Homo sapiens: one gene and its partners. The protein of the gene in region 2 interacts with the protein of the main gene of each other region in a pairwise test. Each region holds a gene or a part of one and is shown on either strand. Other genes may lie near its edges.

What was found.
Region 1: the proteins of ATP13A2 (region 2) and SYT11 interact in a two-hybrid assay, tested with the Homo sapiens proteins (one study listed by BioGRID and IntAct).
Region 3: the proteins of ATP13A2 (region 2) and ACKR3 interact in a two-hybrid assay, tested with the Homo sapiens proteins (one study listed by BioGRID and IntAct).
Region 4: the proteins of ATP13A2 (region 2) and PCDHB10 interact in a two-hybrid assay, tested with the Homo sapiens proteins (one study listed by BioGRID and IntAct).

Annotation. Positions count from the first base shown.
Region 1 is NC_000001.11:155,862,567-155,869,706, forward strand, and holds part of SYT11 (synaptotagmin-11), read left to right. Parts: intron 1-5,398; coding exon 5,399-6,225; intron 6,226-7,140. UniProt on the Homo sapiens protein: Synaptotagmin family member involved in vesicular and membrane trafficking which does not bind Ca(2+). Inhibits clathrin-mediated and bulk endocytosis, functions to ensure precision in vesicle retrieval.
Region 2 is NC_000001.11:17,001,882-17,009,021, forward strand, and holds part of ATP13A2 (polyamine-transporting ATPase 13A2), read right to left. Parts: intron 3,898-7,140; coding exon 3,803-3,897; intron 3,676-3,802; coding exon 3,493-3,675; intron 3,192-3,492; coding exon 3,133-3,191; intron 2,941-3,132; coding exon 2,811-2,940; intron 2,531-2,810; coding exon 2,451-2,530; intron 493-2,450; coding exon 415-492; intron 223-414; coding exon 153-222; intron 1-152. UniProt on the Homo sapiens protein: ATPase which acts as a lysosomal polyamine exporter with high affinity for spermine. Also stimulates cellular uptake of polyamines and protects against polyamine toxicity.
Region 3 is NC_000002.12:236,565,346-236,572,878, forward strand, and holds the start of ACKR3 (atypical chemokine receptor 3), read left to right. Parts: upstream 1-4,479; 5' UTR 4,480-4,579; intron 4,580-7,533. UniProt on the Homo sapiens protein: Atypical chemokine receptor that controls chemokine levels and localization via high-affinity chemokine binding that is uncoupled from classic ligand-driven signal transduction cascades, resulting instead in chemokine sequestration, degradation, or transcytosis.
Region 4 is NC_000005.10:141,187,876-141,195,377, forward strand, and holds the start of PCDHB10 (protocadherin beta-10 precursor), read left to right. Parts: upstream 1-4,477; 5' UTR 4,478-4,677; coding exon 4,678-7,080; 3' UTR 7,081-7,502. Other genes in the region: PCDHB9 (protocadherin beta-9 precursor), read left to right, coding at 1-1,837. UniProt on the Homo sapiens protein: Potential calcium-dependent cell-adhesion protein. May be involved in the establishment and maintenance of specific neuronal connections in the brain.

The DNA of each region.
Region 1 (7,140 bases), about 140 Mb from region 2:
TACCCTATCTCCATTTTCTAACAATAAAAGTTGATGCATTGTAAATATGTAAGCAGCAGTGGGTTGCCCCCCGCTCCTCCACCGCACTGCTGCAGGGAATAAATCTATGATAGAGCCAAAAGAATTGCCCAGGTGTCTCCTAATCTAAGCCTTCAGATCTCTCTTTATGATCATTCCAAAAAATATGCCTGTCTTGGTAGTTTGCTGTGTTCCTCTTCTCATAGAGACAGTGTTCAGTTTCACTAATGAGTAGCAAACAATTTGCAGGAAAGCACCTGATTGATGAATGGAGAGCCACTTCCTTAGGCTGTGCCCATTCTTAATGGCAACTGAATCCAATTAGTTGTTCAACCAAATATTTACTGAACTCCTATTAGAAGCAAGAGACTCTTGAGGGATTCAAAGATCCATAGGATATTGTTCCTGCCTGCCTTCAAGTAGCTTACTACCAAGGCTGTCTCCATTTTGTGAAAACTTTCCCTAAAAGCTATTTCATTTAATACTTTGAGACTAAACACTATTATTATTCGGTATGGATATAGACATGGTCACCTTGATTTATTTTGTTAATAATGTTTTGCTCCTTATCTATATTATTTTAAAATGTACCCGGGTACAGTGGGTCGTGCTTATAATTCCAGCGACTCAAGAGACTGAGGCAAGAGGATCTTGAGGCCAGGAATTCAAAACCAGACTGGGCAACATAGCACCTTGTCTCTAAAAAAAATTTTTTTTAATTAGCCAGGCATAGTGGCATGGTCCTGTAGTCCCAGCTATTCAGGAGTCTAGGGTAGTAAGATTGCTTGAGCCCAGGAGTTCAAGGCTGCAGTGAGCTGTGATTGCACCACTGCACTCCAGCCTGGGCCACAGAGTGAGACCACGTCTCTAAAAAAATAATAACAATAAATATATATTTTAAATAAAATGTAACTCTTCCTTGGTTAGGCATGGTGGCTTGCACCTGTAATCCCAGCAATTTGGTGGAGACTAAAGCAGAATTGCTTGAGCCCAGGAGTTCAAGACCACCTGGGCAATATAGTGAAGACTCATCTCTAAAAAAAATTTAAAAATTAGCTGGGCATGGTGGCTCATGCCTGTAATCCTAGCACTTTGGGGGGCCAAGGCTGGCAGATCACTTGAGGTCAGGAGTTCGAGACCAGCGTGGCCAATATGGTGAAACCCCGTCTCTACTAAAAATACAAAAACTGGCCAGGTGTAGTGGCATGTGCTGGTAATCCCAGCTACTCAGGAAGCTGAGGCAGGAGAATCACTTGAACCAGGGAGGCAGAGGTTGCAGTGAGCCGAGATCGCGCCATTGCACTCAAGTCTGGGCAAAGCAAGACTCCATCTCAAAAAAAAAAAAAATTAACCAGGCATGATGGCACATGCCTGTAGTCCTAGTTCCTCAGGAGGCTGAGGCAAGAAGATCATTTGAACTGGGGAGGTCAAAGCTTCAGTAAGCTGCGATCATGCATGCCACTGCACTCCAGCCTGAGTGACATGGTGAAATTCCATCTCTGCAAAAAATACGAAAATTAGCCAGGTGTGATGGCATGTGCCTGTAGTCCCAGCTACTCAGGAGGCTGAGGCAGGAGGATCACTTGAGCCCAGGTGGTGGAGGTTGCAGTGGGCCAAGCTTGTGCCACTGCACTCCAGCCTAGGCAATAAAATGAGACGCTGTCTCAAAAGAAATAAAAAAAGTAAGCTCTACCACAATGCCTGGCAGGGACATATAAATTTACACAAAAAATAGCAATTTTATTATTGTCACTGCTATACACAATATTACATGTATATTATGACCAGTGCAGATGAAATTATACCTGCCTCTCATGTAATCTGGACATTATGCTCATAGTATTGTGCTCATGATGCTCATAGGCTTTCTAGAGAAGATAAACCCTTCATCTAGGTTTGGAGGGAAGAAAAAGCCATGGATTGGTTGGAGAGGATAGGAGAGGATACCTCTAATAGAAGGGAAAACAGTAGGCATTATACTAATTATAGTCCAAGATTGTGGTTGCCTAAATTCCTAAGTCATTTTTGACTCATCAAGTGAGGTTATTGACTATAAATAGGTTTTTGAGTCCAAATAGAAATTTACATTTATCCCTGATATATGTAATCATCTTGACTCAATCCTTTTTTTTTTTTTTTTTTTTGAGATGGAGTCTCACTCTGTCACCCAGAATGGAGTGCAGTAGCACAATCTCAGCTCACTGCAGCCTCCGCCTCCGAGGTTCAAGCTATTCTCCTGCCTCAGCCTCCCAGGTAGCTGGGATTACAGGCACCTGCCACCATGCCAGGCTAAGTTTTGAATTTTTAGTAGAGACAGGGTTTCACCATGTTGGCCAGGCTGGTCTCGAACTCCTGACCTCAGGTGATCTGCCTACCTCAGCCTCCCAAAGTGCTGGGATTACAGGCATGAGCCACCGCACCAGGCCTCAATCCTCTCTTTCTAATCTGTGGAGGCTGTTTTGAATTCACTGACTCTTTTGTTCACTGAACGCTTACTACATGCCGCATAGTTCTAGGACGTGGAACTATAGCAGTGAACAAAACAGACAAAGTTGCTGTTTTATTAAGCTTGTCTAGTGATCAAAGAAAGATAATAAATATATGTCAGGATAATAAGCTCCATGAAGAAAATTAAGGAAGGGTGATGGGGACATTATCTTACTTGGGGCAGACAGGAAATATTTCCCTCATCCAGTGAGGTTCGGGGCTCACGATAAGTGAAGCAGTGAGCTGCACAGATGCCTGATACAAGAATGCTTTAGGCCGGGCGCGGTGGCTCATGCCTGTAATCCCAGCACTTTGGGAGGCCGAGGCAATTGGATCACTTGCGGTTAGGAGTTCGAGACCAGCCTGACCAACGTGGAGAAACCCTGTCTCTACTAAAAATACAAAAATTAGCCGGACATGGTGGCGCATGCCTGTAATCCCAGCTACTCGGGAGGCTGAGGCAGGAGAATTGCTTGAACTCTGGAGGCGGAGGTTGCGGTGAGCCGTGATCGTGCCATTGTACTTTAGCCTGGGCAACAAGAGCAAAACTCTGTCTCAAAAAAAAAAAAAAAGAATATTCCAGAAAGAATCGGGGAAATGCTGGAATTATGTCTATTTCCTTTTCTTTTTTTTCCTCGCTCTGTTGCCCAGGCTGGAGTGCAGTGGCACGATTTTAACTCACTGCAACCTCCACCTCCTGGGCTCAAGTGATCCTCTTACCTTGGCCTCCCAAATAGCTGGGACTACAGGCATGTGCCACCATGCCCTGCTAATTTTTGTAATTTTTTTGTGTAGAGATGGGGTTTTGCCATGTTGCCCAGGCTACATTTATTTCCTTAGTTCTCCCTCCCTTCCAAGTGGTCCCCTAAAAAGTAAAGTGGAAAAAACTATAGGCCTAATCTGGACCTTTAAAGCCTAAACCCAATTTAGCCTCAATGAACTTGAGGGAGCGAAGAAACTTGAGGGTCCAATTTTTGTGGGAAAAGATAAGACTAGGGTAAGGGAAACAAAAAAAAAATCTATTTCTCTTTCTCTTTTTTTTTTCTTTTTTTTTTTTTTGAGATGGGGTCTCGGTCTTTTGCCCAGGCTGGAGTGCAGTGGCACGATCTCAGCTCACTATAACCTCCACCTCCCGGCTTCAAGTGATTCTCCTGCCTCAGCCTCCTGAGTAGCTGGGATTACAGGTGTGTGTCACCACACCTGGCTAATTTTTGTATTTTATTTTAGCAGAGACAGGGTTTCGCCATGTTGGCCAGGCTGGTTTTGAACTCCTGACCTCAGGTAATCTGCCTGCCTCAGCCTCCCAAAGTGCTGGGATAACAGGCGTGAGCCGCCACACCCGGCCTATTTCTGTTTAGTTATTTGTTCATCCAACACATAGTGCCTGCTATGTGTTTTAAGTGCTGAGGGTACAGCCGTGAACAAAACAGACATAAATTTTTGTCCTCATGAGACTTATATTCTAGTGAAGATAAATAATAAATTGTAAAATAATATGCGTGTGGGTGTTTATTCTTACATATTTGTGTATGTATTTTATATATTTTTTTCTTACATGTGTAGGGGTGTGTGTATCAGAGAGCGAGAATGACGGCATGTTGAAAAAAATTAAGCAAGGCTAGGAAGAGTGGGTGGTGAGGATGGAGAAGATTGCACTTTTAAATAGGTGAGTCAGGAAAGGCCTAAGAAGGTGACATTTGAGCAGAGATCTGACATTTTCCACTAATAGGGAAGAAAACCCCTATTTCTTCCAGTGAAGGATTTATTAAGGTAATAATAATGAAAAGAGAAAGTCTCTATTTCTTCCTATTTAGAATAATATATGTATACATAAATACATATATATACACACACACATATATACATATATACACACACATATACATATATACACATACACACACACACACACACACACACATATATATATATACATACATACACACACCTATTTTTTTGCCTACAATGGATATATTCATCCTGGAGGAATACCTTTTTTTTTTTGAGACGAAGTCTTGCTCCATCACCCAGGCTGGAATGCAGTGGCACGATCTCAGCTCACTGCAACCTCTGCCTCCCAGGTTCAAGCGATTCTCCTGCATCAGCCTCCCAAGTAGCTGGGATTATAGGCACATGCCACCACGCCCAGCTAATTTTTTATATTTTTAGTAGAGACGGGGTTTCACCATGTTGGTCAGTCTGGTCTTGAACTCCTGACCTCAAATGATCCACCTGCCTCAGCCTCCCAAAGTGCCGGGATTACAGGTGTGAGCCACTGCACCCAGCCTTGTATTTTATATACCTGGGAGCTAAAATTTTGGAACATATTTTAAAAGTACATAAACCCAGAATTCTTCCTTTTGGCACCCATCCATTTTTACTACCCTGAACACCCTACCAAGACCATCTAAACTCATCTCCACACCCTTCCACCCTAGCCTGACAGCGAGTCAGTCAGTGCAGGCCCTGTTCTGGATGCTATGGAATATCCTGAAACCAAACATCTTGTGTAACAGTTGAAGTGAACAGGTGCTCATGTAAAAAGGTGATCTTAGAACACGTACAGAGCAGCTTTATGTGAAGCACAAATCAGTATGAGCAAACCAAGTCTATAAGTGCTGAGAGAAGGTCTAGGAAAGAACATAGAGTCAAGTGGGGTGCTTCAGAGAAGGCTTTCTATAGAAGGCTGGGAGGAAAAGCCGTGGAGTGGTTGGAGAGGTTGGGAGAGGGTGCCTCTAATAGAAGGGAAAAATTCTGAAGCCCAGATGAGCACATTTTGCTTTAGAGGCTAGATTGAAGATTAGCTTGGCTCCAGCAGTGGCAATGAGCAGGGGAGATCTAGACAGGAGGTGAAGTCCACCCGCCCTGACACATCTCTGATCTCCGCCTTCAGATGTGTCACCGGTGGTGGCCGGCCTCATCGGGGCCTCTGTGCTGGTGGTGTGTGTCTCGGTGACCGTCTTTGTCTGGTCATGCTGCCACCAGCAGGCAGAGAAGAAGCAGAAGAACCCACCATACAAGTTTATTCACATGCTCAAAGGCATCAGCATATACCCAGAGACCCTCAGCAACAAGAAGAAAATCATCAAAGTGCGGAGAGACAAAGATGGTCCTGGGAGGGAAGGTGGACGTAGGAACCTGTTGGTGGACGCAGCAGAGGCTGGCCTGCTAAGCCGAGACAAAGATCCCAGGGGGCCTAGCTCTGGATCTTGTATAGACCAATTACCCATCAAAATGGACTATGGGGAAGAACTAAGGAGCCCTATTACAAGCCTGACCCCTGGGGAGAGCAAAACCACCTCTCCATCATCTCCAGAGGAGGATGTCATGCTAGGATCCCTCACCTTCTCAGTGGACTATAACTTCCCGAAAAAAGCCCTGGTGGTGACAATCCAGGAGGCCCATGGGCTGCCAGTGATGGATGACCAGACCCAGGGATCTGACCCCTACATCAAAATGACCATCCTTCCTGACAAACGGCATCGGGTGAAGACCAGAGTGCTGCGGAAGACCCTGGACCCTGTGTTTGACGAGACCTTCACCTTCTATGGCATCCCCTACAGCCAGCTGCAGGACCTGGTGCTGCACTTCCTTGTCCTCAGCTTTGACCGCTTCTCTCGGGATGATGTCATTGGCGAGGTCATGGTGCCACTGGCAGGGGTGGACCCCAGCACAGGCAAGGTACAACTGACCAGGGACATCATCAAAAGGAATATCCAGGTGAGTAGGAAGTGTGTGTTGGGGAGCAATGGTAGGTTGGGGGAGAAAATATCTCAGGGGATAAATGGAAGTGGGAGGGGAGTGGGTTGGGTGGCAAAGAAGGGCTGTAGAGAGGAAGCTCTTGGATGTCAAGGATAAGCAGTGGTCAGAGTAAGACAGAGGGCCTGGCAGATGAGGTCTCCTCTAAGAAGCAACTTCCTGGTGAGAGAAGGTTCAATAGCTTTCACCATTTCACTTAGTGGTTGGCATCCTGATGCTGTCCAGCTTACTTGGAACAGGCTGGCCTACCATTTGTAGATCCTTCATTATATCAGGGATATGGGAGCTAATTTCCTCTCCAAAATGATGTGATCTTCCTCCAGTGAATTTATTTTTCACAGCTGAGAAGCTATGACAATAATTCAGTAATTTTTCCCTCAGCTTCCCTTTCCCAACCCTAACCTAGGGGTGTAAATGATACCATGTACATGTCTTTTTTTTTTTTTTTTTTTTTTTTGAGACAGAGTTTCACTCTTGTCGCCCAGGCTGGAGTGCAATGGCGCAATCTCAGCTCATTGCAACCCCCACCGCCCAGGTTCAAGCTATTCTCCTGCCTCAGCCTCCCGAGTAGCTGGGATTGCAAGCACCCATCACCACGCCTGGCTAATTTTTTGTATTTTTAGTAGAAACGGGGATTCACCATGTTAGCCTGGCTAGTCTTGAACTTCTATCCTCAGGTGATCCACCTGCCTCGGACTCCAAAAGTACTGGGATTACAGGCATGAGCCACTGCACCCAGCCGTCATGCACATGTCTTCTTATGACCATTTTACAATGCAATTCAATGAATTGCTTCACCCTTCTAGGCCCAAACCTTTGCCATAGACACTTCCCCTCTCTCCATTTCTCCTGTCCTCCCTCTTTGTATTAGAAGAG
Region 2 (7,140 bases):
GACTGCGGCAGGTTCTGAGATGACGATCCACTATGGAGAAGGGGACAGCTGGTCTGGTTGCCACCGTAAAGTGGCCCAGAGGAGGCAAGCCCTGGGCCAAGGTCACACAGCACGCCAGGCAGGGCTGGGGCAAGACCCAGGGACAGCCCTACCTCGTCCACCAGCAGCTGGGGGTAGGACTTGACCGGTATGCTGATCACGTTGGGGCCGTAAATGGCCTTCCTGGAAGAGGGGATGAGGCCAAGCCATCAGAAGGAGGAGCTGTGGCTGGACCCTCCCGGGGTGAAGGAGCTCCCCACTTTCAGCTGGGGGAACTGAGGCCCAGAGAAGGCAGGTGACTGGAAGGCAACCACATTGGGGGGCAACACAAGGAGCCCCAGTTCTCAGGGCACCCCGGTCCAGGGCAGCACTGACCTCACCATTTGGTCCTGGAGGCTGAGGCCATGGCGGGAGCGGTGGACGTCGTCACAAGAGCGGCCATGGTCCAGGAGGCTGGGGGTGGGTGCGAGGGGACACGCATGGGCCATGGGGCCTGAGGTCTGCATCCCCCACCCTGTGCAGGCTGGAGACTATGGGCTCTAGGCCCCCCATCCCCGTTCTGCCACACTGAGCTCCTGGGAGCAAGTAAGCCCCCTTGAACCCAAGGCTTGGCTTTGCCCTTTTGTTCCTCTCACTGGGTTCCAAACCAAGTCACTGAAGAAGGAGAACAGCGAGAGATGATGCTAATAATATGAACAGTGAAAAGAGTAGCTGTTATTTAGTGATAAGGGCACTATTTACACTGATGATACCCTGGGCAAGTCACTTAACCTCTCTGTGCCTCAGTTTTCTCATCTGCAAAATGGGGGCAGTGACAGCACCTACCACATAGGGCCATGGGTAGATTAAGTGGGGCAAGCCTCGGGGACTGCTTTGGACGTGCCTGCCACTTGCTAAGTGATGAATGCACGGGTGATTTTTGCTATTATCCCCATCATGCAGCAGAGGCTGTTGCTGCCATCCCCATCTCCCCTCTGCCTCACCTCCACATGACAGCTGGACCCTGAAAACACCTGTCTTTACCTGAGGCCTTCTGGCTGCATGTGAATCCCCTGCCTGTGAGCCCGGAAAGCGTGGAAGACTTTGTGTCCCGTGACTGATAATGGCAGGGAATTTGATGGTAACTGTCCTCACTCCCTGTGTGAGGTCGCCCAGAGGTGTGTGGTCTACGCTGGCCCAAGGAGATCCCCAGGCGACTGAAGTCCGGGTGTCCACAGCTGTGGCAGCCAGCATAACCTCCCTCCGTGCTTCCATCCCTTCCCCAGCACTGCCTGGGATCAGCTTCAAAACAAACTCCCTGCCCTTGAGCCCTTGTCTGGGGGTCTGCTTCTGCGGCATTCAAACTAAAGTGTGTGAGCAGGGCCCGGTGGCTCATGCCTGTAATTCTAGCACTTTGGGAGGCTGAGGCGGGTGGATCACCTGAGGTCAGGTATTTGAGAACAGCCTGGCCAACATGGTGAAACCCCGTCCCTACAAAACATGCAAAAATTAGCTGGGTGTGGTGGCATGCACCTGTAATCCCAACTACTCGGGAGGCTGAGGCAGGAGAATCGCTTGAACCCAGGAGGCGGAGGTGCAGTGAGCCGAGAATGCGGCATTGCACTCCAGCCCGGGCAACAAGAGTGAAACTCCATCTTAAAAAACAAACAAACAAACCAAAAAAACCACACACACACACACACACACACACACACACACACACATACACACAAACTAAGGTGTGTGGTGAGCTTGTGTTTCTTTTTCTTTTTTTTTTTTTTTGAGATGGAGTCATGCTCTGTCATCCAGGCTAGAGTGCAGTGGCGCGATGTTGGCTCACTGCAACCTCTGCCGCCCAGGTTCAAGCGATTTTCCTGCCTCAGCCTCCCAAGTAGCTGGGATTACAGGCACATGCCATCACGCCCAGCTAATTTTTGTGTTTTTAGTAGAGATGGGGTTTCAGCATCTTGGCCAGGCTGATCTTGAACTCCTGACCTCGTGATCCACCTGTCTTGGCTTCCCAAAGTGCTGGGATTACAGGGGTGAGCCACCGCACCCAGCCTGAGCTCATGTTTCTTAAGCCTTTTGTAGGTGGCAGAGCAGTGACTAAACCCCAAGCAGACAGTCTGAGTACAGAGCTGATAGTCTGATTCACAGTGGTGTCACAACCTCAGATCACATTCGGTGCCAAGCTCTACATAAATTATTATCTATTTCACCATCAAAACAATCCTAGGAGGCAGAAGTTATCTTCATGCCCTATTTATAGACAGAGATCCCAGGCCTGGAGGGGCTCAGTAACCTGCCCAAGGTTTCAGACAGCAAAAGCATCAGAGCTGAGAGGGGAGCCCAGGCCATGCCATGCCACCGTCTGTGCCCAAACCAGTGCCACTCTGGGAGGTGACATGAGCCACACAGGCCCTGACTCCTACCTGACCTGGTAGAAGGCTTGCTGGGTCTCGATCCAGATATAGCGCTGGCCCTGGAAGAGGTAATACCGCAGCACCCGCTTCTGGGTGGGAGAGAGGAGAGGATGGGTTGGAAGCTGGCCCCGGCCCCAGAAGCAGTGTGCTTATGCTGGGAGCCGAGGGATGGGGGTAGGGGGCAGGGACTGGTGTCACCAGACAGAGAGGTGGGGAGAGGCCTGAAAGTGTAAACGTGCTCAGACAGCATCCTGGATGTTTGGGACAACAGAACTAAAAGGTGGTGGGAGAACATGAAGTCTGACTCTCCCATTGCACAGATCATGAAACCGAGGCCGAGAGAGGGGCAAGGACTTTTTCAGAACCCACCTGTCCGACACTCACCGCCTCCTCGCTCTTGTGGAGCTGGGCCGTATCCTTCCAGGCACCCTCTGGTACCGCCCCAACTGCCGCCTGGCTCCGGCCATCCTCTGCCTGGGACTGTGGGGACGGCTCCAGGCTGGGGAAGCAGGTGAGGGTTACTCTCGAGCTCTGGGAGCTGCCCTGGCACCTCCCTGTGCTCACAGAGCCATCTTCCCTCCCTAGGATGGGAGGCGCCAGAGTCAGCCTTTATGGGGGGGCCGAGGGTTGGGGAAGTTGGGGAGGCCAGGGTAGCAGGGGCTTCTGGGAAGGGGCAATGGGGCTGCCTCACCTGCCCTCGCCGATGGCCTCAGTCTGCACCTGGACAGTGAAGAGCTGCCAGGAACTATCCTGGAACACAGAGGTATGGACTCAGTCTCAGAAGAGTCCCCTCCCCTCCCAGGCCCTGTCCTACAGCCAGGCGGCCCCTGCTGGAGAAGGCAGAAATCAAGGCTATGGAGAGCCCTCCAGAAACCACCCGACCCGTCCCTTCTGCCCAATGCTCAGATGGGAAAGCTGAGGTCCAGAGAAGAGCGGGACCTGCCTAATGTCCCATGGAAAGTCAGTGGCCGGGTTGGCACCCAAGCATCCTCCACCCCCGACCCTGACCCTCACTGCGCTTCTCTAGCCCCAGGCTCAGCCTGACTCTCACCTCTTTGTCTCTTATTTCGATAACGAGTGTTTCGGCGTGGGCCAGGTTGCAGGGCCGGAGCCGCAGCCGCACCCCCCACAGGGGCTTCCAACGGAAGAGCAGCAAAGGGATCCCAGCCATCATCCAGACCACGACGTGATAGCCGATGACCCTCCATGGACTGCCACAGTAGCCGCTGAGCCTCTGCGAACGCAGCGAGAGAGGGCCCAGGTCGGGGTGGGAACGGGGCTGGAGTAGGAAGTTGGGGTGTCTGGGTGGGCCTGGGCATTCACCCCCTGCAGCTTTTCCCCACCCCACTCTGCCCACTTACCACGGATGAAACTGAGGAGCTGAGGGGATCTATTGATGTCCCTATCGTCAGGGTCCCATAACCGGTGGGCGTGCTGCCCACGAGAGGGCTGCTGTCTGTGGACAGAAAAGAGAAAGGTCATTTGGGGAGGCACCTTCTCCTCTTGCTTCCTTAAAAACAATAAACATCAGCCTGGGCGCGGTGGCTCACGCCTGTAATCCCAGCACTTTGGGAGGCCGAGGCGGGTGGATCACCTGAGGTTAGAAGTTCGAGATCAACCTGGCTAACATGGTGAAACCCATCTCTACTAAAAATAAAAAAAATTAGCCGGGCGTGGCAGCGCGTGCCTGTAATCTCAGCTACTCAGGAGGCTGAGGCAGGGGAATCACTTGAACCTGGGAGGTAGAGGTTGCAGTGAGGCAAGATCACACCACTGCACCCCTGCCTGAGCAACAGAGTGAGACTCCATCTCAAAAAACTAAACAAAACAAAACACAAAACAGTAAGCACCTGGTCTGACAGAGCCCAAAGCTCATGTCTTCCTGTGTCCTTTATCTGGCTCTTCTTTCCGTCGGTTCTTACTTACCGTATCTTTTTTTTTTTTTTGAGACGGAGTGTCACTCTGTCACCCAGGCTGGAGTGCAGTCACTTGATCTCAGCTCACTGCAACCTTTGCCTCCCAGGTTCAAGCGATTCTCCTGCCTCAGCCTCCCGAGTAGCTGGGATTATAGGCATGCACCACCATGCCCAGCTAATTTTTGTATTTTTAGTAGAGATGGGGTTTCACCATGTTGGCCAGGCTGGTCTCGAACTCCTGACCTCAAGTGATCTGCCCACTTTGGCCTCCCAAAGTGCTGGGATTACAGGCATGAGCCACCGTGCTTGGCCAGTAGTGTCTTGTTTCCTTGCGTGTGTCGGTCTTTCTGCTGGGTATGGCCCAGAATTGGAGAATGGGGCCTGGACAGTGCCCCAAGCCCCCATGGTGCTCGTGCATCCAGCCATTAGCTTCCTTGGAGCTCTGGGTCTCACTTTTCTATCCTCATCCAGTCCCCACCCTGAGGGCAGGGGTCAGGGATGCTTATCTTCATTCCATGCCCGTGCCCAGCCCAGGTCTGGCAGTGAGGAGATGCAAAGTCAAGTCTGGACTAATAAACGGTCAGCCCTGCAGGCCTATCTTTACAGATGGGTAAACTGAGACTTGGGGAATGGTATCAGGTGGTTCTATTGCAGATATTCTTTTTTTTTTGAGATGAAGTCTTGCTCTGTCGCCCAGTCTGGAATACAATGGCATGATCTCGGCTCACTACAACCTCTGCCTCCCAGGTTCAAGCGATTATCCTGCCTCAGCCTCCCGAGTAGCTGGGATTACAGGCGCCCAGCTAAGTTTTGTATTTTCAGTAGAGACGGGGTTTCACCATGCTGGTCAGGGTGGTCTCAAACTGCCGACCTCAGGTGATCCACCCGCCTTGCCTCCCTGAGTGCTGGGCTGACAGGCTGAGCCACTGCGCCCGGCCACAGACATTCTTTTCACTCCTTCCTCCTGTGCTGTAGAGCTGTGGCCTTAGCAGGGCAGGCAGCCAGTGGATGTTCTGGGGCTCCAGAGCGGGTAGAGCTCACCAGCCCCACCCTTGGACAGCCTCTGTCAGGGTTCATCTACGGTCCCAGACCACCTGGAGCACCTTTTACATATGCAGATGCCAGGGCCCTCCCCAGACTGGCTGGATCAACTCCTCAGGCCGGGGTAGGGATGGTGCTAGGCATCTGTGGTTTCACAAGAGCCTCTGAAAAAGCTCACTAAGCTGGAAAAGCTGGGCGGGTGCGGGGTAGGCTGCTGATTTTCTGGGCTCCCTCCTTCATCCCCCAATCTGAGCCCTTCTAAAATTTTTCCTTTTTTTTTTTTTTTTTTTGAGAGCGAGTCTCGCTCTGTCACCCAGGCTGGAGTGCAGTGGCGCGATCTCGGCTCACTGCAAGCTCTGCCTTCCGGGTTCACACCATTCTCCTGCCTCAGCCTCCCAAGTAGCTGGGACTACAGGCGCCCGCCACCACGCCCGGCTAATTTTTTGTATTTTTAGTAGAGATGGGGTTTCACCGTGTTAGCCAGGATGGTCTCGATCTCCCGACCTCGTGATCCGCCCGCCTCGGCCTCCCAAAGTGCTGGGATTACAGGCGTGAGCCACAGCGCCCGGCGAGCCCTTCTAAAATTTCTACCCAAAGAGTCCAGAGTGCCCCAGGCAGCTGCTGTGGGCACAGCACCCCCAGCCTCTGAGCAGCCCCATCCCCAAGCACTCTGGCTTCAACACTCCTAGAGGGCTCACTGTGCACAGGGTACATGGCTAACGTATCAACCCTGCCAGGTAACCTCGGTTGTGATGTCCTTTCATTCATTCATTCATTCATTTATTTACTTATCACTCTTGTAGCCTCGGCTTCCCAAAGTGCTGGGATTACAGGCGTGAGCCACCATGCCCAGCTTACAGTTTTCGTGTATAAGTCTTTTTTTGAGACAGTCTCTCTCTGTCACCCAGGCTGGAGTGCAGTGTTGCGATCATAGCTCACTGCAGCCTTGACCTCCCAGGCTCAAGCAATTCTCCCACCTCAGCCTCCAAATAGCTGGGACTACAGGCACAGGCCACCATGCCCAGCTAATTTTTTTTGTAGAGACAGGGTTTTGTCTTTTTGCCCATCATTTGTTCCTAAGAATTTCTTTTTTGATGCTGTGTTTCATACAGCAAGTGCCTTTGCCTCTCTGGGCTTCCATTTCTCATCTCTAGGATGATAGTCCCGAAGCATCCAGCACACAGGGAGGTAGAAGCATTTGAAGTTCCTGGGGGGGTTGCGTGGACAGGTGGGCAGGACCCGGCTCCCAGGTCAGGGGGGCGTGGCTTCTGCTTATCCATTTCCCAGGCTCTCTTCTCCTTTCACATCACCCTGTCTGAAGCCCTGGCTGTCCCACGGCTCCCTAGGCCCATTCAACAGTTGCTCCTTGTACCTTAAAACCCTCAGGCCGGCCGTGCGCAGTGGCTCACGCCTGTAATCCCAGCCCTTTGGGAGCCCAAGGGGGGCGGATCACGAGGTCAGGAGGTGGAGACTAGCTGAGACCATCCTGGCTAACACGGTGAAACCCTGTCTCTACTAAAAATATAAAAACCAAATTAGCCGGGCGTGGTGGCAGGCGCCTGTAGTCCCAGCTACTTGGGAGGCTGAGGCGGGAGAATGGTGTGAACCCAGAAGGTGGAGCTTGCAGTGAGCTGAGATCACGCCACTGCACTCCAGCCAGGGTGACAGAGCAAGACTCAAAAAAAAAAAAAAAAACCCTCAGGCCAACAGCCCAGCGGGCTCAGGGATGATGGGAAAGGAGC
Region 3 (7,533 bases), on a different chromosome or scaffold from region 2:
AGCAGGTGCAACAAGATGACTTTGACCTTCCTGCTGTTTCTTAAAAGCAGAGGGTGAAATTCCTATGTGAAAGATGCCCTCCCTAGATGATGCAACATTTTTATATAGTCAAAGTCGAAACTGGGAGAGTTCTGTACAGATCTTGTTAAAAATAACTCTTATCTTTTAAGCCTCTCCATATAATTTAGTGGCTTCTTCACAACTAACTCTTCTCTGTCCAATCCACTACATAATTAACTGACTTTAGCTACTTCTTTGGGGTCTTCATTTCTTTATGAGGGCTCCTGTGCTGCGTGAAGTTTGTATTAAGTTTTTCTCCTGTTAATCTATCTTATGTGGATTAAATTCTTGGACTCAGCTGGGACCCTAAGAGGAGGGAGGTAGACTTTTCCCACCCCTACAGTGTGTATATATCAGGGTTCCAAGCCAGGTTGTCTGGACAGAGGAACCCAATTCCCTTGAGTTGAGGGGCTGTCTTTGCTTTTAAGCCGTTGCCCTGCAGAAGGGGCTTGGTGTTGCGGTTATTCTGGGGGAGCGTCCAGTCCCAGGTGAAATGACTCCTGCCATGCCCAGCTACCAGATAATGAAGCTTCTTCCCAGGGTCACAACTCCAAGAATGAGGAACGCCTCGTCCTCAGGCCAGCGGCGCAGCTGAGCCTCTCTGGGCTCATATCACAGTCACCATAACTGCACTGTCTCCACTCTAACGGGGCTCCCAGATCACAGACCCTACCGGCCGCCGCTCTGGCCCGCCAGGATCCTCACGCTTTTAAGTCAGGTGCGGTTTCTGGAAGAAGCCTGGTGGTGCCACATCTACAGGCGAATCAGATCCCAGAGCAGACAGAGCTGACCACCTGCCCTGTGGGGCGTGCAACCCCAGGTGCAGATTACAGACAGGGAAGGAGGGAGGAGCTTAGCTGAAACCCCTTCCTGACCCCTTTCCAATAAGCACTCAGGGGTAGCAAAACATCCAGGAACTTTTAGTTCTGGGTCAGCTGGGACAGCGGTAGGGACAGCGTCCTGTTCGTGCCTTCTCTGAGTTTTCTATTAGGTGCCACCAAACACATTCCCACCCAAAAGAACCATTATATTGGACCTTACTGAAAAGGTTAAAATATGCATTCTGGCATGGTAACTGTTTCAGTGAAAGGCACTTGAAAAACAGCAGGTGCAAGATCACTCTCCCCATAGCAGAAGGAAGACAGCATCCTTATCCTTAGGACTAGAAGCTGCCAGCTAAAGAATACTGCAGAGCGTCACTCTAATCTTTTTAGTCACATTTTCAAAGTTTATTCTTCTCTGTTTAATCCAGTATTTAAGTAGTGGACGCGAACTGCTTGCTCGGGTCTGTCCCTCTTTCCTTCCTTTCCTTCCCTTCCTTCCTTCCTTCCTTCCTTCCTTCCTTCCTTCCTTCCTTCCTTTTCTTTGCTAGGGCCTGCCTTTCTCTGTTGCTTTCTTTCTTGCTTTCTTTGTTCGGGTCGTCATCTCTTTCCTCTTTCTTTCTTTCTTTTCTTTCTTTCTCTCTCTGTCTTTTCTTCCTTTCTCTCTCTGTCTCTCCCTCTTTCTTTCTTTCCCCAAGGAGGATTTGCCTGCCTGCCTGCCTGCCTTCCTTCCTTCCTTCCTTCTTTCCTTCCTTCCTACCTTCCTTCCTTCCTTCCCCCTTCCCTTCTTTTTCTTTTGACAGAGTCTCACTCTGTCACCCAGGCTGGATTGCAATGGTGCAATCCCGGCTCACTACAACCTCCGCCTCCCGGGTTCAAGCGATTCTCCTGCCTCCCGAGTAGCTGGGATTACAGACGCGCGCCACCGCGCTGGGCTAATTTTTTGTATTTTTTAGTAGAGATGGGGTTTCACCATGTTGGCCTGGCTGGTCTCGAACTCCCGACCTCGCGATCCGCCCGCCTCGGCCTCCCAAAGTGCTGGGATTACAGGCCTGAGCCACCGCGCCCGGCCGGGTCTGCATTTCTGTATGAGGGCTCCCATGCCGCGTGAAACTTGCACTATGCTTTCCTCCTATTCATCTATCTTATGTCAATTTAATTCTCGGACCCAGCCGGGACCCCTAGAGGATGGAGGTGGAGTTCTGCCCTTACACTGAAAGCACAATCTTCCAAAAGCAGAGACACTCTTCAAAACTTTGAAAAGAGACTTTTAGGTCCTAGGGCAATGGAATCTCGTTTTCTCAAAAAGCCCTGCTTGCTTACCCTCTCGTTTTCCCCCAGGCCTGTTTTCTGGGACAGGGTGGGAGGCCCAAGGAGACAGCCAAGTTCAGGCCCCAAGCACCCAGCTCCTCCTCCCAGGGTGGGAGCCTGGCCAGAGTTCCCGACCCACCCCGCCCCATTCCCCGCTGGCGCTTGGTCCGCCCCTCCCCGTCTGGAAGCCTCCAGCAGCCCCGCCCGGCGGAACTAGGGGACGGGTGGGGGACGTCGAAGGGCGAGGGCGGTGACCCCGGGGCCAGAATTCTCGCAGGCGCCTGGGCCGGGTGCCCGGCCGTGCGTGAGTGCGGAACAAGTCTGGGCGCGGGGAAGGGCGTGGGTGCGGGCCGTGGGTGGGTGCGGGGCAGGGCGCGGGGCTGTGGGAGGGCGCGAGGCCGTGTGTGGGTGCGGGGCTGGGTGCAGGCCGTGGGTGGGCGCGGGGCCGGGGCTGGCGGGGCAGGGCGCAGGCTGCTGCAAGGCGGCCTCGTGGATTCTGGCCCCGGACGCACGAAGCGGGTTCTACTTTTTAAAAAAACTGCGTTGCCTTTTCCTTCCTCTACGTTAGCATCCTGTCCGGGGTCCCCGGCCCATGTGGCCTTTCTTCCAGCGACAGTACACTTAGCTCAGAACGGATTGACACCCACTCTGTGTTTCCACCGGGCGCGCAGGCTCTGCAATGCGGAGCGCGTTCTCTGAAGGACAGGCCCCGGAGTCACGGCTACAGCCACAGAAAGCGGAAACCGAGCTGCAGTCCAGAGGGGATCCCCGTACATTTCCAGCGGGCTCAGACACAGGGTCCCCCACAAGAAAGAAACAGGACAGAAAAAGTCAGGACACGTATGCTGTGGAGAGTCGAGGTCTCGCCTAGATCTTGGGTGTGGGTAGACGCAGCCGCTGGCAGTTTTCCTTTCCAGCGTCTCTGGGGAGCCTGGAGATGTCCTTGGTGCCGATGTGACACGAAGAGTGATTGCGCCGCCCTGCAGAGGCGGTGGCGGGACGCTGCGCTCGGGCTGGGAAAGGCCGGCCCCAGGGCGACCCCTCCGGAGGCCCCCGGAGAGCAGGTGTGCACCTCGCCTCCCGCTGGGCAGCCAGTTCAGGAGAAAAATGTGAAGCTTTTAGCTAAACAAAATATTTCTTTCGTTAAGGGCTTTCTCCACACGGAGACTTTCTAGCCACGTGAGACTTTGACCTCCCAGTCCCCCAGATTCAGCGCTGGGACCGAGCGTCTGCTGTTATTTTTAGTAGAAGTATAAAAAGAATCTCGAAAAGTTTTAGCTCTGGAGAAGGCGTGAATACAGCTGGTGCCTTCATACACTCCACTTGAGCCGCTCTTTAAGAACTCCAGGAGATCAGAAAGCAATACGAAAGCCAGAGCATTGCACATGGGATGGGCTGGCGGGTGGCCTTTGGGTCCCTATCTTATGGACGATTTTTGTAAATGGGGCATTGGAGATGAGTATCACCTGGATCACATTTTTAGGTTGAATTCCTCCGTGGGGGGAACTTTAGCAATACGCATCCAAATAAGAATGTAGATTGCAATAATTGTAGTAAAGTGTTTGCCAGACTCATCTCAGAAAAAGACATTATCAAAAGGCATTTATTATCTTCCTAATGCGTGTCTGGCACTGGGCAGACACTGTAGAATACTATCTTGATTAGAGTCTCAAGGATTTTGTACTTAAAGTCCTTTACAAATAAAAGTATTCAAGTATAATCTATTATAAAGACTCTTTTCTCCACTTTGGGGATATACGGTGTGGCATCGATTCATTGGTCATACCAAAACTGTTACTTCTGTTTTGGAGGAATTAACAAGGAAAACCCAGGCTTAGTAAATCAACATCGAAGTTCAGAAGTTCAGAGTAATTTGTCTTGGGAACAAAGTCCTCCCTAGAGCGAAGAGGCATTCACAGGAGCTCTTGGTGTTAATGGGATTATTCAAGATATACCTGAGACCAGATAAATATTTGATGATTTTGCCAAGCACTAGGGTTTCTTTGCAGTTTGTCTTTGGCTGACGTTTTCCCCCCGTGGGGTTTGGACTTTGTGGCTTCACCAGATTTTGCAAATGAAAGAAGGCTGGGGTTTCCCAAGAGTACACTTGTGCAGGAAACAACAGACTAGTGAGGTTTACAAGAGGGGGGTGTGTGTGTGTGTGTGTCTGCCTGTGGGATGGGGGTGGCACGGGGGAGAGAGAGATGTGGGTTACAAAGCTGCCATCTAGAGGCTAGAGGCTCCTTTCTGCAGTGTATATAATGCAAGTCTGCAGCCAGCAGAGCTCACAGTTGTTGCAAAGTGCTCAGCACTAAGGGAGCCAGCGCACAGCACAGCCAGGAAGGCGAGCGAGCCCAGCCAGCCCAGCCAGCCCAGCCAGCCCGGAGGTAAGGAAACGGTGCTCGGGCAGCAGCTCTGCTCGGAAAGAAGGCACGGCTTCTGCTCTTAAGCCAAGTGGTCTTTTCAAAGGCCTTCTTTAAAATCGCTCAGATGGGTGCTTTTGAGTCTGCGGGTCTGGTTTCTGAAAACCCAGGCTGCACGCAGCTGCATTGCAAAGTGCTTTTGCTAATTCGGAGGGCTTCACCTTTCTCTTCAGAAAGCAAAGGGCAGTTTTCTTAAGTCACTTGCAGAAGGAAATTTCCATGTGTATTTAGGAATCTGGTGTTTATTTGCTGTGTGGCTATTTAAGCTCCAGTAAGCAGGGGAACTTTGCAAGAACACAGACTATCCATTCTGCCTGACCAATTTGGCATGGGGATTAGCTTGGCACCCACTGTTTACCTGTTTTGCTTCTAGTATATCAGTTTGGAAACAGATAAAATTGGCAGTAAATACGTAATTCCAGAATGATGAACACTTTATTAAGAGGCATCCTTAAATGGAGCAGAAAACTGCTGAGAATCTTTGTGAGTCCAAGATGTATTTGAATTCAGTACTTTGGGGGATTTACCAGAGTCTGTAAGTCCGGAAGCTATAAACGTGAATGTTAAACACAGCCCGGTCTTCTCTTCTCTTGATGGCACGCTTGCTAATCTAATTTGAGTATTGTTCTCTTAGAAGGTGTTAAGTCCAACTTCAATTGGGGTTGGGGGAAGCACACACACAAATCTACTATTTTGCAATTTAAATATACTCTTCAGGTAAAATGTGGATTTTGTTCAATTTTGTTGGCATGTGCAAAGATTCAAGGAGTGACTGAGAGAACTTTGGAGTGAGGTCAGGGATGGGTGGTTAGCCAAGACTTGTAACTTCCAGGGAGAATGAGAAGTTGTAAAAGTCAGACTGGCTGTCTCTCTTTCTCTCTTCCTCTTTCTTTCTTTCTTTCTTTCCTTTTGCTCACAACAGGATTACTTAGTGTTTCAAAAGTGGGAGAGAGCCTCCTTAAATGGTTTACAGCCCTTTGAATGTATTTGGTGCAGTGACATCCCCTGAAACTTCAGTCTGCAAAGTCTCAACATGGTAACTTTGTTCTTTTCTTTTTTAAAGGCAGATGCTGCTTTTAGTGTCCCTTTATTTATTCCAGGAAAAATGTGGACATCAGCTAGGCACGCCTAGCAAAGAAAGTGGAGGCTGCTGGTTTCTGTGCTTTAACTTTCCATAGATTTTAAATGGATAAACTGCTTGCCCTTCTTTCATCAGAATATGAGCTTTCCCCAGATGGAAAGTCTTTTCTAAAGCAAAGTTGCACATGGGAGCTCTAGCTTGGAAACAATTTGCTCTTTTTTCCCCAGTCTCTGCCATAAACACTTGAATGTGCACACAACTGCAGAGCTTAATGCCACAACCTCCAGGAGATTGGGGGGAGGGGAAAGCTGCCCAGGATGGGGGTGGGAAAGCGAAGGAAGATGGAGAAATGGCTGCAGTTTGCTGCCCATCAGCTTTTCTCTTTTAAGGGGCAGACATTGCAGACGTAGTTTTAAAAAAGTTCCATAAAGCATCGCCAAGGCAGCATGCCTGTGCGACACACGCAGGGCTTTGGGGGTGTGTTTTCCCCGTATTAACAGCAAGTCGTTGAAGCGTTGAGAAGGTATTATGATTTCTAATCAGGCCCAGAACAGGCCAAGTATAGGCTTTCTGAATGAAAAAAAAAAAAAAAAAAAAAAAACCCAAAACAAAAAACCCTGCTTAATCAGGAACAGTGGCTTTTTGTGTGATCATTTTAGGGCGAGAGCTCCTGTTTTCAAGTCGACGTGAGGGAAATTGGTTGAAGTCACTCAAACCTGAGGCTGAAGGGCAGTCACTTTATAAACCTTAAGAGTAACCGAGGGGAAAGAAAAAGACCTCAAAGATTGCAAAACTTTAGATTTTTTTTTTGTGATTTTGTAGAACATGAGGGGAATCTGGGGCCAGAAGGCATTTGTACCTTTAAACCAGGCAATCAAATAACTTAGTTTTATTATTAGAAGCAAGAATAGTATTAAAACGCCTTCAATTGGATTGCACGTGTGTAGGCATAATTCAGGAAGAAACTAAAGATCGTGTCATGTCAAGTGTTACTAAAGTTCAGGAAGGAAAAGACAAAGCTCCAGGACACGTATTTTCTGTTGAAATAAAAGAAAGCAAGCCAGAAATAGACAGATCAGGACAGGGAGGCGTGCAGGCGGTGGCCCTGATTTTGAATATTTGATGGTTTCCTTCAGGGAATGTTTGATGCTTTTATCGACTAATTTGGAATTGAAAAAAACAAAACAAAACACTATTGCTTCAATATTAAAGTGATCAGGGAATTGCATAATTTTATGGTGACAATTTTAAAGAGCCACAGGTAGTTTTGGAAGCAGACTGTGTTTTGTTCCAGGCACTGAAAAAGTGGATGGGGGCCGAGACTATCTCAGGTGGCCTTGAACCACTGTTGGCAAAGGGACAGATAACGAGCCCAGGGCAGTGTGGGGGACTTTGCGTTTTGAAGTCTGGGTCAGCCAGATAGTAAGCATCTTTTGCTTTTCCTGCTATAACAGATATGTGGCCATCCTCCCTCAGTTGTATATGCAGAGCCTAAGTTTGCACAGTGTCCTCCTGGGAACCCCATTGTGTCTGGCTTAGGGCGGGGGTGAGGAGGCTCTCCTAGCCTGGCTGACCTCCCACTGCCTCGTCCTAGTCCTAAGCTGGGTGGGAATCAGGGCTCTGGTTACACTGGGCCGGCCCAGACGGCAGCCTTTGTGACGTGGGAATCTCTGGACCTGCTCTTGTGGGTATAGCTTTGCTTCCCTGTCGGGCAGCTGAGCACAATAGACCAGATCAGGTTTCTGGACGTGGGATTTATTTGATCCCCCAAATCCTTAAAGTGGACGAGGGTGTCCCACGTGTTCATGTGAAGTATGTCTAAGGACCCTGGGAAGAG
Region 4 (7,502 bases), on a different chromosome or scaffold from region 2:
TGAAGGCATGATATATCCAGAGCTAGTGTTGGACAAAGCACTGGATCGGGAGGAGCAGGAAGAGCTCAGCTTAACCCTCACAGCGCTGGATGGTGGGTCTCCATCCAGGTCTGGGACCTCCACTATACGCATTGTGGTCTTGGATGTCAATGACAATGTCCCACAGTTTGCCCAGGCTCTGTATGAGACCCAGGCTCCAGAAAACAGTCCAGTAGGGTCCCTTATTGTTAAAGTGTCTGCAGGAGATGCAGACTCAGGAGTCAATGCAGAAGTATCCTATTCATTTTTTGATGCTTCTGAAGATATTTTAACAACGTTTCAAATCAATCCTTTTTCTGGGGAAATCTTTCTCAGAGAATTGCTTGATTATGAGTTAGTAAATTCTTACAAAATAAATATACAGGCAATGGACGGCGGAGGCCTTTCTGCAAGATGTACAGTTTTGATAAAAGTATTAGATTCCAATGACAATCCTCCTGAACTGATCATATCATCACTTTCCAACTCTGTTGCTGAAAACTCTCCTGGGATAGTATTGGCTGTTTTTAAGATTAAAGACAGAGACTCCGGAGAAAATGGAAAGACAATTTGCTATGTTCAAGATAATCTGCCTTTTTTTCTGAAACCGTCTGTTGACAATTTTTACATCCTAATGACTGAAGGTGCACTGGACAGAGAGAGCAAAGCTGAGTACAACATCACCATCACCGTCACTGACTTGGGGACACCCAGGCTGAAAACCGAGCACAGCATAACCCTGCAGGTCTCCGACGTCAATGACAACGCCCCCGCCTTCACCCAAACCTCCTACACCCTGTTCGTCCGGGAGAACAACAGCCCCGCCCTGCACATCGGCAGTGTCAGCGCCACAGACAGAGACTCAGGCACCAACGCCCAGGTCACCTACTCGCTGCTGCCGCCCCAGGACCCACACCTGCCCCTCGCCTCCCTGGTCTCCATCAACGCGGACAATGGCCACCTGTTTGCCCTCAGGTCGCTGGACTACGAGGCCCTGCAGGCTTTCGACTTCCGCGTGGGCGCCTCAGACCGCGGCTCCCCGGCTTTGAGCAGCGAGGCGCTGGTGCGCGTACTGGTGCTGGACGCCAACGACAACTCGCCCTTCGTGCTGTACCCGCTGCAGAACGGCTCCGCGCCCTGCACCGAGCTGGTGCCCCGGGCGGCCGAGCCGGGCTACCTGGTGACCAAGGTGGTGGCGGTGGACGGCGACTCGGGCCAGAACGCCTGGCTGTCGTACCAGCTGCTCAAGGCCACGGAGCCCGGGCTGTTCGGTGTGTGGGCGCACAATGGGGAGGTGCGCACCGCCAGGCTGCTGAGCGAGCGCGACGCGGCCAAGCACAGGCTGGTGGTGCTTGTCAAGGACAATGGCGAGCCTCCTCGCTCGGCCACCGCCACGCTGCACGTGCTCCTGGTGGACGGCTTCTCCCAGCCCTACCTGCCTCTCCCGGAGGCGGCCCCGGCCCAGGCCCAGGCCGACTTGCTCACCGTCTACCTGGTGGTGGCGTTGGCCTCGGTGTCTTCGCTCTTCCTCCTCTCGGTGCTCCTGTTCGTGGCGGTGCGGCTGTGCAGGAGGAGCAGGGCGGCCTCGGTGGGTCGCTGCTCGGTGCCCGAGGGTCCTTTTCCAGGGCATCTGGTGGACGTGAGCGGCACCGGGACCCTGTTCCAGAGCTACCAGTACGAGGTGTGTCTGACTGGAGGTTCAGAGACCGGCGAGTTCAAGTTCTTGAAGCCGATTACCCCCCACCTCCCGCCCCATAGGGGTGGGAAAGAAATAGAGGAAAATTCTACTCTCCCCAATAGCTTTGGATTTAATTATTGAAAGGAACCCACTTAATAAAGACATTTACTTCTTTAATATATTCTTGTTGGCTAACTAAATTGTGTATGCCCACCACAAAGAAGGTACTATTTTTTGTTTGATTCATCTTCAACTTTGCGTATTATGCTTAACTTCACAAGTTAACTTTTTCTTATTTTGTATCCTGATGAGGCATTTCTTACTAGAATCCCATAAGTGAAATATAATATTTTTCAAAGTTGATATCATTTAAAAATTTTTGGTCGTTTTAAATGTCTTTATTGACTTTAAATTCATTGCCTCTACATTATTCATTAGTTCTTCTTTTCCTAAAACTTTTTACTTGTTAAAATAGTCTGCTGCATGTAATATGTGCTTTTACTATTTGATATTTCTTCTATTTTTCTTTTGAAACCGGTGTTCTTATTGGTTTGCCATCCTTGTTCATTACAACTGTTTTTTGTTTGTTTGTTTGTTTTTTGGTTTGTTTGTTTTTTTTTTTTTTGAGACGGAGTCTCGCTCTGTCGCCCAGGCTGGAGTGCAGTGGCGCGATCTCAGCTCACTGCAACCTCCGCCTCCCAGGTTCAAGCGATTCTCCTGCCTCAGCCTCCAGAGTATCTGGGACTACAGTTGCATGTCACCACGTTCGGCTAATTTTTGTATTTTCAGTAGAGACGGGTTTCATCATGGTGGCCAGGATGGTCTATCTCTTGACCTCGTGATCCACCCCACTCAGCCTCCCAAATTGCTGGGATTTACAGGCATGAGCCACCGCACCCAGCCTACAATAATTTTCTTAAACTTTACCTTTTATTTTAAAGTTCTAGTTTCCCGGCATTGATAGTTCCCTATTTGAAATATAATGTTTCTCTTGTAAGTGATATGATAAATAAACCCCTAATTAGCCTTAGAAGAAAAACCACTGCAAGATATTAAGCGTGTGTAAATGGGCTTTAGTCTGGAAACCAAAAAAAAAAAAAAAATTTAGTCATTCTATAGGATCATGTGAAAATATTTAATTTGCTCCTTTTAATTCTGTATAAACAAATCAGAGGTTCCTGAGGTTCCTGTTAAATTTTTAATGGCTAATAGCCCAGTGCCATCCAGTTGAAAAAACAACAGCAATCACAAAGTAGAGGTTTATATTGTGCGGCTTTTATATTCAGCTATTAGAGTGTTATTGGTAGTGTCTAGCCTTTTCCTCCACGACATTCCTTGACTTAATCCATTTGGGCCTATTATAGACAAAATAGAGCTTCTTTCTAGATATAAGGTCTTTGAGGCAGGGCTCAGTGGCTCATTCCTGTAATCCCAGCACTTTGGGAGGCCAAGGCGGGCAGATCACCTTAGGTCACGAGTTTGAGACCAGCCTGACCAACGTTAAGTAACCCCGTCTTTACTAAAAATACAAAATTAGCCAGGCATGGTGGCACATGCTTGTAATCCCAGCTACTCGGGAGGCTGAGGCAGGAGAATCGCTTGAACCCAGGAGGTGGAAGTTGCTTTGAGCCGAGATTGCACCATTGTACTCCAGCCTGGGCAATAAGAGCAAAACTCCATCAAAATAAAATAAAATAAAATATAAAATAACTTAAAAAGAACTTTGAATAAAATTCTATGAAAAAAGACACTAGAATGCTGTTCTTAATTTTAATAGTGTTAAGATAGGTGTTAGTGTGGTCTGTTCTTTACCTCCCTTTATTTGGTGCAGAGAAGTTAGATCCTGCTAAATTTCAATTAAGAGGGGACCTTAAAATAAGGATCAATCTCTTATTTAACCCTGTAAGTTACTTTAAAGCTAATACAAGAAAAACAAAGACAAGTGAAAGTAAGGAAACAGAAATTGCAAAGAGTAAATGAAAGAAAAAAACTTTCAAGTGGTCGGAATTGAAAGGCACTGGAAAACGTTTCAGGTTCTACCCATCTGAGTTTATTTATGCATGTCCTAATACAGGCAGTATTTATTGCTTGTCTGATTTGTCACTCACAGATGATTAGGACATAGTTCCTATCCTTAAGTAGCCCACACATTGAAGAAGAAATAGATTTGCATGAATTAAGAAGCAATAATATTTGCAGGGCAATCATAGTTGTATACACAAGTTTTTATGAGAGAATAGAGGAGGGACAGCTTAAATGCATTATACAAGATTACAGAGTGATGATTCTCCTTAATCAGTGTGATGAGATTTTGAAGTTTGTTGAGGAAGGTGTGAAACATATTTTCTTTGTCTGTTTTGGTGTTCTTATCCCGATGTTTCTGGAAAAGTAAAATCTCCTGTTACTTTGGTGATCCCAGATGTCAGCAACATTTTCCCTTTGATTCTTGACATTGTGTGAGAGTTGTGTCTGAGATGAAAGGACTAGTAGAGAGCTAAATTTAGCACAGTGAGGTGGACAGAGTTATTGCTAGAAACATATTTTCAAGTGTTGAATTTTTAACTTTTCCCAAAAAGAATTGAAGAATCTCAACAATGTGACTATTTCTCTGTCTCAACATTAATTTTTACAAGACAAACGAAAATAAACATGAAAAATTTAAATGAGGCACTAAAGGAAATTGTCTGAATACACACACCCAAATGGGTACAACTACTGAAATCTGGTGGAGGCCACACGGTGGCGCTGCAGGCTAAAGAGACGGTTTGGGAATTGCTCTGAGGATGCTATGCAAGTCACTAATAAAGGAAGACACGGACAGATGAACTTAAAAGAGAAGCTTTAGCTGCCAAAGATTGGGAAAGGGAAAGGACAAAAAAGACCCCTGGGCTACACGGCGTAGGTGCAGGGTTTCCTACTGCTGTTCTTTTATGCTGGGAGCTGTGGCTGTAACCAACTAGGAAATAACGTATGCAGCAGCTATGGCTGTCAGAGAGTTGTGCTTCCCAAGACAAAGGCAAGTCCTGTTTCTTTTTCTTTTTTGGGGAGTGTCCTTGGCAGGTTCTGGGTTTGGACGTTATTCGGTGACTGAGGAAACAGAGAAAGGATCCTTTGTGGTCAATCTGGCAAAGGATCTGGGACTAGCAGAGGGGGAGCTGGCTGCAAGGGGAACCAGGGTGGTTTCCGATGATAACAAACAATACCTGCTCCTGGATTCACATACCGGGAATTTGCTCACAAATGAGAAACTGGACCGAGAGAAGCTGTGTGGCCCTAAAGAGCCCTGTATGCTGTATTTCCAAATTTTAATGGATGATCCCTTTCAGATTTACCGGGCTGAGCTGAGAGTCAGGGATATAAATGATCACGCGCCAGTATTTCAGGACAAAGAAACAGTCTTAAAAATATCAGAAAATACAGCTGAAGGGACAGCATTTAGACTAGAAAGAGCACAGGATCCAGATGGAGGACTTAACGGTATCCAAAACTACACGATCAGCCCCAACTCTTTTTTCCATATTAACATTAGTGGCGGTGATGAAGGCATGATATATCCAGAGCTAGTGTTGGACAAAGCACTGGATCGGGAGGAGCAGGGAGAGCTCAGCTTAACCCTCACAGCGCTGGATGGTGGGTCTCCATCCAGGTCTGGGACCTCTACTGTACGCATCGTTGTCTTGGACGTCAATGACAATGCCCCACAGTTTGCCCAGGCTCTGTATGAGACCCAGGCTCCAGAAAACAGCCCCATTGGGTTCCTTATTGTTAAGGTATGGGCAGAAGATGTAGACTCTGGAGTCAACGCGGAAGTATCCTATTCATTTTTTGATGCCTCAGAAAATATTCGAACAACCTTTCAAATCAATCCTTTTTCTGGGGAAATCTTTCTCAGAGAATTGCTTGATTATGAGTTAGTAAATTCTTACAAAATAAATATACAGGCAATGGACGGTGGAGGCCTTTCTGCAAGATGTAGGGTTTTAGTGGAAGTATTGGACACCAATGACAATCCCCCTGAACTGATCGTATCATCATTTTCCAACTCTGTTGCTGAGAATTCTCCTGAGACGCCGCTGGCTGTTTTTAAGATTAATGACAGAGACTCTGGAGAAAATGGAAAGATGGTTTGCTACATTCAAGAGAATCTGCCATTCCTACTAAAACCTTCTGTGGAGAATTTTTACATCCTAATTACAGAAGGCGCGCTGGACAGAGAGATCAGAGCCGAGTACAACATCACTATCACCGTCACTGACTTGGGGACACCCAGGCTGAAAACCGAGCACAACATAACGGTCCTGGTCTCCGACGTCAATGACAACGCCCCCGCCTTCACCCAAACCTCCTACACCCTGTTCGTCCGCGAGAACAACAGCCCCGCCCTGCACATCGGCAGCGTCAGCGCCACAGACAGAGACTCGGGCACCAACGCCCAGGTCACCTACTCGCTGCTGCCGCCCCAAGACCCGCACCTGCCCCTCGCCTCCCTGGTCTCCATCAACGCGGACAACGGCCACCTGTTCGCCCTCAGGTCGCTGGACTACGAGGCCCTGCAGGCTTTCGAGTTCCGCGTGGGCGCCACAGACCGCGGCTCCCCCGCGCTGAGCAGAGAGGCGCTGGTGCGCGTGCTGGTGCTGGACGCCAACGACAACTCGCCCTTCGTGCTGTACCCGCTGCAGAACGGCTCCGCGCCCTGCACCGAGCTGGTGCCCCGGGCGGCCGAGCCGGGCTACCTGGTGACCAAGGTGGTGGCGGTGGACGGCGACTCGGGCCAGAACGCCTGGCTGTCGTACCAGCTGCTCAAGGCCACGGAGCCCGGGCTGTTCGGTGTGTGGGCGCACAATGGGGAGGTGCGCACCGCCAGGCTGCTGAGCGAGCGCGACGCAGCCAAGCACAGGCTCGTGGTGCTTGTCAAGGACAATGGCGAGCCTCCTCGCTCGGCCACCGCCACGCTGCACTTGCTCCTGGTGGACGGCTTCTCCCAGCCCTACCTGCCTCTCCCGGAGGCGGCCCCGGCCCAGGCCCAGGCCGAGGCCGACTTGCTCACCGTCTACCTGGTGGTGGCGTTGGCCTCGGTGTCTTCGCTCTTCCTCCTCTCGGTGCTCCTGTTCGTGGCGGTGCGGCTGTGCAGGAGGAGCAGGGCGGCCTCGGTGGGTCGCTGCTCGGTGCCCGAGGGTCCTTTTCCAGGGCATCTGGTGGACGTGAGGGGCGCTGAGACCCTGTCCCAGAGCTACCAGTATGAGGTGTGTCTGACGGGAGGCCCCGGGACCAGTGAGTTCAAGTTCTTGAAACCAGTTATTTCGGATATTCAGGCACAGGGCCCTGGGAGGAAGGGTGAAGAAAATTCCACCTTCCGAAATAGCTTTGGATTTAATATTCAGTAAAGTCTGTTTTTAGTTTCATATACTTTTGGTGTGTTACATAGCCATGTTTCTATTAGTTTACTTTTAAATCTCAAATTTAAGTTATTATGCAACTTCAAGCATTATTTTCAAGTAGTATACCCCTGTGGTTTTACAATGTTTCATCATTTTTTTGCATTAATAACAACTGGGTTTAATTTAATGAGTATTTTTTTCTAAATGATAGTGTTAAGGTTTTAATTCTTTCCAACTGCCCAAGGAATTAATTACTATTATATCTCATTACAGAAATCTGAGGTTTTGATTCATTTCAGAGCTTGCATCTCATGATTCTAATCACTTCTGTCTATAGTGTACTTGCTCTATTTAAGAAGGCATATCTACATTTCCAAACTCATTCTAACATTCTATATATTCGTGTTTGAAAACCATGTCATTTATTT